Linked DNA regions of Homo sapiens. The protein of the gene in region 1 purifies or fractionates together with the protein of each later gene. This does not show direct contact. Each region holds a gene or a part of one and is shown on either strand. Other genes may lie near its edges.

Region 1 (3,748 bases):
TGCCTGGCATTATTGTTGATTTGTGTGTGTGTCACTACCAGACTGGAGACCGTGTCTTACTGAATTTCTATGCCCAGCCCTTAGCCCGGTTCTTGGGACACACACGAGTCTGATGCCTCCCCACCATGAACAAGCCACTCTGAAAACTCCATAGAACCTTGCTTCTCAAAGTGTGATCTGTCAACCAGCAGCAGCAGCAGCATCACTGGGGAAGAGGCTTGCAAATGCAGAAGGTAGGCCCACCCCAAGAACTACTGAGCAGAATCTGTCAAGGTAAAAAGTTCAGACTATTCTGGAGGTAGCAGGAGGTCTTGGACATCATGGAATAGATGTGCCAAATCGAGGAGGTTGGGAAAGGGAGAGGCAGGTGGGTACCAGAAATGCAGGTGAGAGGGGATGAGGGCCTCAACCAGGGAGCTGAGGATGATGAGAAGTGGCATGCAGGGAGAGCTGGAGTGACCTTGCAGAGCCAGAAACTGATTGATGGAAGAAGGGAAGGAGAAGCGGGAAGAAAGTCAAGGGTGATTGAGGCTCCGAATCTGTTGGGCTGGGGTAGAGAAGACGTGAGCACCAGGGGAAGGCAGGCTGGTCAGCTGATGATGCCCCTGTAGGGTCCCTTGCCTGCAGACCATCTCCATTCATACAAGAGCCCCTGGGCAAGTGGAAGAAAAGCAGTGGGAAAACCTTCACCTCTGACAGGGCAAGACAAGACTATCACACTTTTTCCTTATCCCATCTTTAAACTGGAGGATCATCTTGGAACTTAAGATCTATGAGGTGCTCTGGTTTTTATATCCAGAGGAGGCATGGGATCATAAAAGCAGACAGCTATCAGGTTCTTCATCTTAGAATCCATTGATGTGGCAAAATGAAAAAATAAATTAATAGTGCCACTTCAGTATCTAAATGAATTGGGGTTTGGCCAATGTCTGCAGGAAGCTTCTACAAGAACTCAGTAAATGATTTCCATTTGAAAACACAGCTCAAAGAGCGCTTAATAAGTGCAATTTGGTGATGATAATGATGATCCACAGAGCAGCAGCATCTATCCAGTCAAGCAAATGTTCCTGGGGAACAGTGATAATGAACCAGGTCCAGGACCATGGGCAATTCTAAAAGAGCGTGCGGGGCATTTTGTTGTTTTAAAGATCTGCTTCCCTAACCTGTCCACCCCGCATCCCTGCTGCTGATCGTGAATATCATCCTAAGCAATTCTTTTGGCCCTGAATGTAGTGGTTTAGGTAAAGGCGTGGAAAAGCCAGGACTGTAGAGACTTGGAGCTCCCCAGGGAAACCACAGGAACGAAATAGGTCACAGGGCTCCAGGCAGCGCTCCCCTGCCCCGCCCGGTGCAAGCCCGGGGCCGCCGGCTGGGGTGGGGCGCGCAGCGCGGCAGGCAGGCAGGGCTACCATGCAGTTCTCAGCCTCCTGGCTCCTTCGCCCCTCGCCCCGCGCCCCTGGGCCGCCCTCGCCTGCCCGCACCCTAGAGCAGCCCTGACCCGTGGGGGCGCGCGGCCTCGCGGGGATCCCGCGGGCGGGCGGGCGGCCGGGCGCGCGCGGGGCGGGGGCGGCGCGCGCGCGGGGAGCGTGTGGGCCGGGCGGGCGCGGCGGGGAAAGCTGGGCGCGCGAGCCGAGGCTGCTGCTCACCTGCAGCCGCGCCGCTCACCTGCCGCGGAGTGCGCGCCCCGCGCCCTCCCGGCCCGCTCCGGAGCCCGGCCGCCCCCCCCTTGCCACAGCGGGCAACTGCGCCGACATGCGACACGAGTAGCCCACGCGCTTCGGAAGCACCGGAGGAGCCCCCTCGGCCTGGGCGAGCCAAGGTGACCCCCTCGATGACCCCCCCGCCCCCGCGGGCCGCCTGTCCCCGCACCCTGTCTGTCCCCCTCGCGTCCGACTCCCGTCCCCGCCGCCAGGGAATCGGCAGCAGTGCATGGGCATCTGTCTGTCTGTCTGTCTCGGTACTTCCATTGCACACACCTCCCTCTCGTGGCCCTCCCGACTGCCCCGTGCGCACGGGGGGAGTCTGGAGCCCCTCTTTGTTCCGGTCGGGGGTGCGTTTGAGGATGTGCACGCGCGCGGGGGATGCGTTTGGAGGGTGGGAGTTCGATGGAAATAGGCGATTTAAATATTCCATCGAGGATGGCGGCCCCTGGCTCGAGACCTGCCGCTGCCGCGTGGTTTTCTCGGCAGCAGCCCAGATGTCAAACAGTTGTTCGTTTTCAGCATGCAAGATGTGATTTTCCAATGTGCATTCCCAGCGCTGTTGCAAACAGACCGCCGCGAGTCCGTGTGTGCCTGCCTCGCTCACGCTGGTGTTTTGAAGTCCTACCCTGTGTTTTCCCCAATGCCAAACGGCATTTTTGTTGTGGGGTTTAAACCACAGAGACTTTGGCTTTTGTTTCATTTCCCAACAGTTCCTCATTCCCGAAGCTTGTGGCATTTGGTACTGGTATCTGAGCAGGGGCTGGCTTTCTGTTTGTCTGTGTGTTTTTTGCATGATCTTGGATTGTCACCCTGCTGTATTTAAACATTAAAAAGCCTGTCTTTTCGTTGAAGAGGACAGGGGTTAAAATGAATGAAGACCTGAAGGTCAATTTAAGCGGGCTGCCTCGGGATTATTTAGATGCCGCTGCTGCGGAGAACATCTCGGCTGCTGTCTCCTCCCGGGTTCCTGCCGTAGAGCCAGAGCCTGAGCTCGTAGTCAACCCCTGGGACATTGTCTTGTGTACCTCGGGAACCCTCATCTCCTGTGAAAATGCCATTGTGGTCCTTATCATCTTCCACAACCCCAGCCTGCGAGCACCCATGTTCCTGCTAATAGGCAGCCTGGCTCTTGCAGACCTGCTGGCCGGCATTGGACTCATCACCAATTTTGTTTTTGCCTACCTGCTTCAGTCAGAAGCCACCAAGCTGGTCACGATCGGCCTCATTGTCGCCTCTTTCTCTGCCTCTGTCTGCAGCTTGCTGGCTATCACTGTTGACCGCTACCTCTCACTGTACTACGCTCTGACGTACCATTCGGAGAGGACGGTCACGTTTACCTATGTCATGCTCGTCATGCTCTGGGGGACCTCCATCTGCCTGGGGCTGCTGCCCGTCATGGGCTGGAACTGCCTCCGAGACGAGTCCACCTGCAGCGTGGTCAGACCGCTCACCAAGAACAACGCGGCCATCCTCTCGGTGTCCTTCCTCTTCATGTTTGCGCTCATGCTTCAGCTCTACATCCAGATCTGTAAGATTGTGATGAGGCACGCCCATCAGATAGCCCTGCAGCACCACTTCCTGGCCACGTCGCACTATGTGACCACCCGGAAAGGGGTCTCCACCCTGGCTATCATCCTGGGGACGTTTGCTGCTTGCTGGATGCCTTTCACCCTCTATTCCTTGATAGCGGATTACACCTACCCCTCCATCTATACCTACGCCACCCTCCTGCCCGCCACCTACAATTCCATCATCAACCCTGTCATATATGCTTTCAGAAACCAAGAGATCCAGAAAGCGCTCTGTCTCATTTGCTGCGGCTGCATCCCGTCCAGTCTCGCCCAGAGAGCGCGCTCGCCCAGTGATGTGTAGCACCCTTGCACCCAGGAGGACTCTGCATTTACCAAGCACTTCCACTGCCTGGCCAAGGTTTGAGATGCTTCCCTTGAATTCCTTGCATTGGATTCCCTCTCAAGCCACAGGAGCACTTAGCATTCGTGAAACAATGACATCGTTCAGATGAGTTAAGTGATTGAAGTGAAAAT
Region 2 (3,748 bases), on another chromosome or scaffold:
GCTTGCTCCTCTGTTTCACCCGCTGGCTTGCTCCTTCTCTGCATCTCCCTCCCCTCTTATTCTCCTACCCCACAGCTCACTGTCTGCAGGCTGCCGAGGAGGCTGCTTCACCTACACCATGTCTCGAATCAACTTGCGGATCCGGGAGCAGCTTTTCTCCTCCCTGCTGCGCCAGGACCTCGGTTTCTTCCAGGAGACTAAGACAGGTGGGGCCTGGAGTCCAGGTCTGAGATTCCCATGGACATCCCTTGCCCCTCAGTGACCTTCCACCCACAGCCTCTCCTCCTGCCTTCACCCGTATGCCAGGACTTGGGGATGCTTTTCTCTTGTTTGGGACAGGGTGGAGAAGCAGCCTCCACTGTCCCTCTGCAAGTGAAGGAGGATGTTCAGAGGAGGGGGCTGTGTCAGAGGGAACGGTCAGGAGGGAGTTTCTGGGGGCCCTGCAGTACACATGGTTTCCTTTTTCCTCACCTGCTCTGTCCTTCTTAGGGGAGCTGAACTCACGGCTGAGCTCGGATACCACCCTGATGAGTAACTGGCTTCCTTTAAATGCCAATGTGCTCTTGCGAAGCCTGGTGAAAGTGGTGGGGCTGTATGGCTTCATGCTCAGCATATCGCCTCGACTCACCCTCCTTTCTCTGCTGCACATGCCCTTCACAATAGCAGCGGAGAAGGTGTACAACACCCGCCATCAGGTGAGCGTGCATGTAAGGGAACCCCAAAGGGAGAATAAAACTGACAGGTGAGGAGGCTTCCACATTTGTGGCTAGAGGATCCCCTAGAGAGAGATGTTCTCTTCTCAGCCATTAGGGGAGAAGGTATATTGTAGTATATACTACATTTTGTTTGTCCAGCCATCCAACAATGGATATTTGACTTCAGAAGATTCATGATTCTCCAGAACTGTAAACAAAAATGTAAAGTGTATGTGAAGGTATGGGGGAGGGAATAGGAAGGGGAGATGATAGGCGATGATAACTTTTCATTAGCTTCTCAAAGGAGTCTGTACATCCCCCGCCCCCACTGCGAAGATTAAAAATGGTTTCTTAGAGGCTTTTAGGCAGGGAGATTTTCCCTTTAAAATCAGCAGAAGAAGTCTGGATGCAGCATAGGGAAAGGAGGCGTCATCAGGAAGTCCTAAGTCTGAATGTCAGCTCCACCTTCTCTTTTTCTCTTATATTGTGGTAAAACATACATAACATAAAATTTACCATTTCAACCATTTGAAGTGTACAGTTCAGTGACATTTAGGAAACCCACATTGTTATTGGGTAACCATCATCACCATCCATCTCCAGAACTTTTTTCATCTTCCTAAAATGAAACTCTGTACCCACTAAATAGTAACTGCCTACTACCCCCAACCCCTGGCCGCTGGCAACCTCCATTGTACCTTCTGTCTCCATGAATTGTGATGACTCCCGGTGCGGTACGTAAGTGGAACCATACAGTATTTGTCTTTTTGTGACTGGCATATTTTACTTAGCGTAATGTCTTCAGGCCTCATCCATATTGTAGCATGTGTTAGAATTTCCTCCCTTTTAAGGCTGAATAATATTCTGTTGTGTGCATATATCACATTTTGATTATCCATTCATCTGTCAATGGACATTTGCGTTGTTTCCACCTTTTGGCTGTTGTGAATTATGCTGCTGTGGACATGAGTGTACACCTGTTTGAAACCCTGCTTTTGGTTCTTTTGGGTATATACTTAGAAGTGGAGCTGCTGGATCATATGGCAATTCTATTTAACAATTTTTGAGGAACCATGTATTAGTCCATTTTTACGCTGCTGATAAAGACATACCCAAGATTGGGCAATTTACAAAAGAAAGAGGTTTATTGGACTTACAGTTCCATGTGGCTGGGAAGACCTCAAATCATGGCGGAAGGTGAAAGACACATTTCACATGGCAGCAGACAAGAGAAAAGACAGCTTGTGCAGGGGAATTCCCCTTTTTAAAACCATTATATCTCGTGAGACTTATTCAATATCACAAGAACAGCATGGGAAAGACTTGCCCTCATGATTCAATTACCTCCTACCCAGTCCCTCCCACAACACATGGGAATTCAAGATCAGATATGGGTAGGGACACAGCCAGATCGTATCAAACCACCATACAGTTTTCCATAGCGGCAGCACCATTTTAAATTCCCACCAGCAGTGCATAAGGTTTCCAATTTCTCCACATCCTCATCAACACCACTTTCTGTTGTCTTTTTTTTTAATAGCCATTCTAATGGTGATTAGGTGATTAGGATTATCTCATTGTGGTTTTGATTTGCATTTCCCTAATGATTAGTAAATATTGAGCATCTTTTCGTGTGATTTTGGCCACTTATGTTTCTTTCTTGAAAGAATGTCTGCAAGTTCTTTGCCCATTTTCTGATTTTTTTTTAAGTTGTGGGAGTTCACTATATGTTTTGCCTATTAATTTCCTATCAGATATATGATTCACAAATATTTTCTTGTATTTCATGGTTGCTTTTTCACTCTGTTGCTAGAGTTCTTTGATGCACAAACGTTTTAAATTCTGATGAAGTCTGATTTATCTATTTTTTGTTGCCTGTGCGTTTGGTGTTATATCCAAGAAATCACTGCCAAATCTAGTGGCATGAGGCTTTTCTTCTACATTTTCCTAGGAGTTTTATAGTGTTAGCTCTTATGTTTAGGCCTCTGATCCATTTGGAATTACATCTCCACCTTTCTTAACTATCTGTGGCTCCTTGGGAAAACTACCCTTCTTTCCTGATTCAGACACTGGGGATGGGAAAATTACCTCAAATGAAGGTTAAAAAAATTGCATGTATCTCCTATACTACCTAACACTGAGAGCTCAATAATATTTTGTTCCCTTGCTCCTTCACTCTTATTCCTTCTGGAAAGAAGAGTAAGGAAGAGGGAGAGAAACAGTTTGGTATTTTTAGGTAGACTAGGGAGCATCTCACTGGCTGGAGTAAGATGTGGGGGCCTGCTGTCTTTGCACATCAGCCCTGGTGTTTGCTGGCCCTCTTTTCCAGGAAGTGCTTCGGGAGATCCAGGATGCAGTGGCCAGGGCGGGGCAGGTGGTGCGGGAAGCCGTTGGAGGGCTGCAGACCGTTCGCAGTTTTGGGGCCGAGGAGCATGAAGTCTGTCGCTATAAAGAGGCCCTTGAACAATGTCGGCAGCTGTATTGGCGGAGAGACCTGGAACGCGCCTTGTACCTGCTCGTAAGGAGGGTAAGATACCAGAGTGGTTGTGAAAGGAGCCCAGGAAAGGGGGAGGGCAAGGGAAGAGGAAACTACAGCTGGTTCTAGAGGCCTTTGCAGCTCAGTCTCATAGAGGCAGAGAGGGGGAAAGAATGGGAAGATTCCCAGCCTCATCTCTTTCTTCTCCTCTTCCAGGTGCTGCACTTGGGGGTGCAGATGCTGATGCTGAGCTGTGGGCTGCAGCAGATGCAGGATGGGGAGCTCACCCAGGGCAGCCTGCTTTCCTTTATGATCTACCAGGAGAGCGTGGGGAGCTATGTGCAGGTGAGCGAGAAGCCAAGCCTGCTCTCCTTTTTTCCCTCTCTTTTTCTTTGTGGACTCCTGGGCCTTGGGCTTTATTTGTTCTTTTTAACAATACAATACAAAACCAAAACCCGCAAGTAATTTTGCTATGGAGAATTTTAAACATATGCCAAAAATGAGACAAAATAATATTACAAACTCACATGTATACATCCTGTGCTTTAACAATGATCAACTCATGCCCAATCTTGTT

The links. The genes of interacting proteins can lie anywhere in the genome.
Region 2: the proteins of GPR12 (region 1) and TAP2 purify together in Homo sapiens (co-immunoprecipitation; 2 studies listed by BioGRID and IntAct, with this or other methods). This does not show direct contact.

What each region holds. Positions count from the first base shown.
Region 1 is NC_000013.11:26,758,650-26,762,397, reverse strand, and holds the start of GPR12 (G-protein coupled receptor 12), read left to right. Parts: upstream 1-1,611; 5' UTR 1,612-1,819; intron 1,820-2,555; 5' UTR 2,556-2,570; coding exon 2,571-3,575; 3' UTR 3,576-3,748. UniProt on the Homo sapiens protein: Promotes neurite outgrowth and blocks myelin inhibition in neurons. Receptor with constitutive G(s) signaling activity that stimulates cyclic AMP production.
Region 2 is NC_000006.12:32,832,101-32,835,848, reverse strand, and holds part of TAP2 (antigen peptide transporter 2), read left to right. Parts: intron 1-75; coding exon 76-206; intron 207-489; coding exon 490-695; intron 696-3,024; coding exon 3,025-3,222; intron 3,223-3,387; coding exon 3,388-3,516; intron 3,517-3,748. UniProt on the Homo sapiens protein: ABC transporter associated with antigen processing. In complex with TAP1 mediates unidirectional translocation of peptide antigens from cytosol to endoplasmic reticulum (ER) for loading onto MHC class I (MHCI) molecules.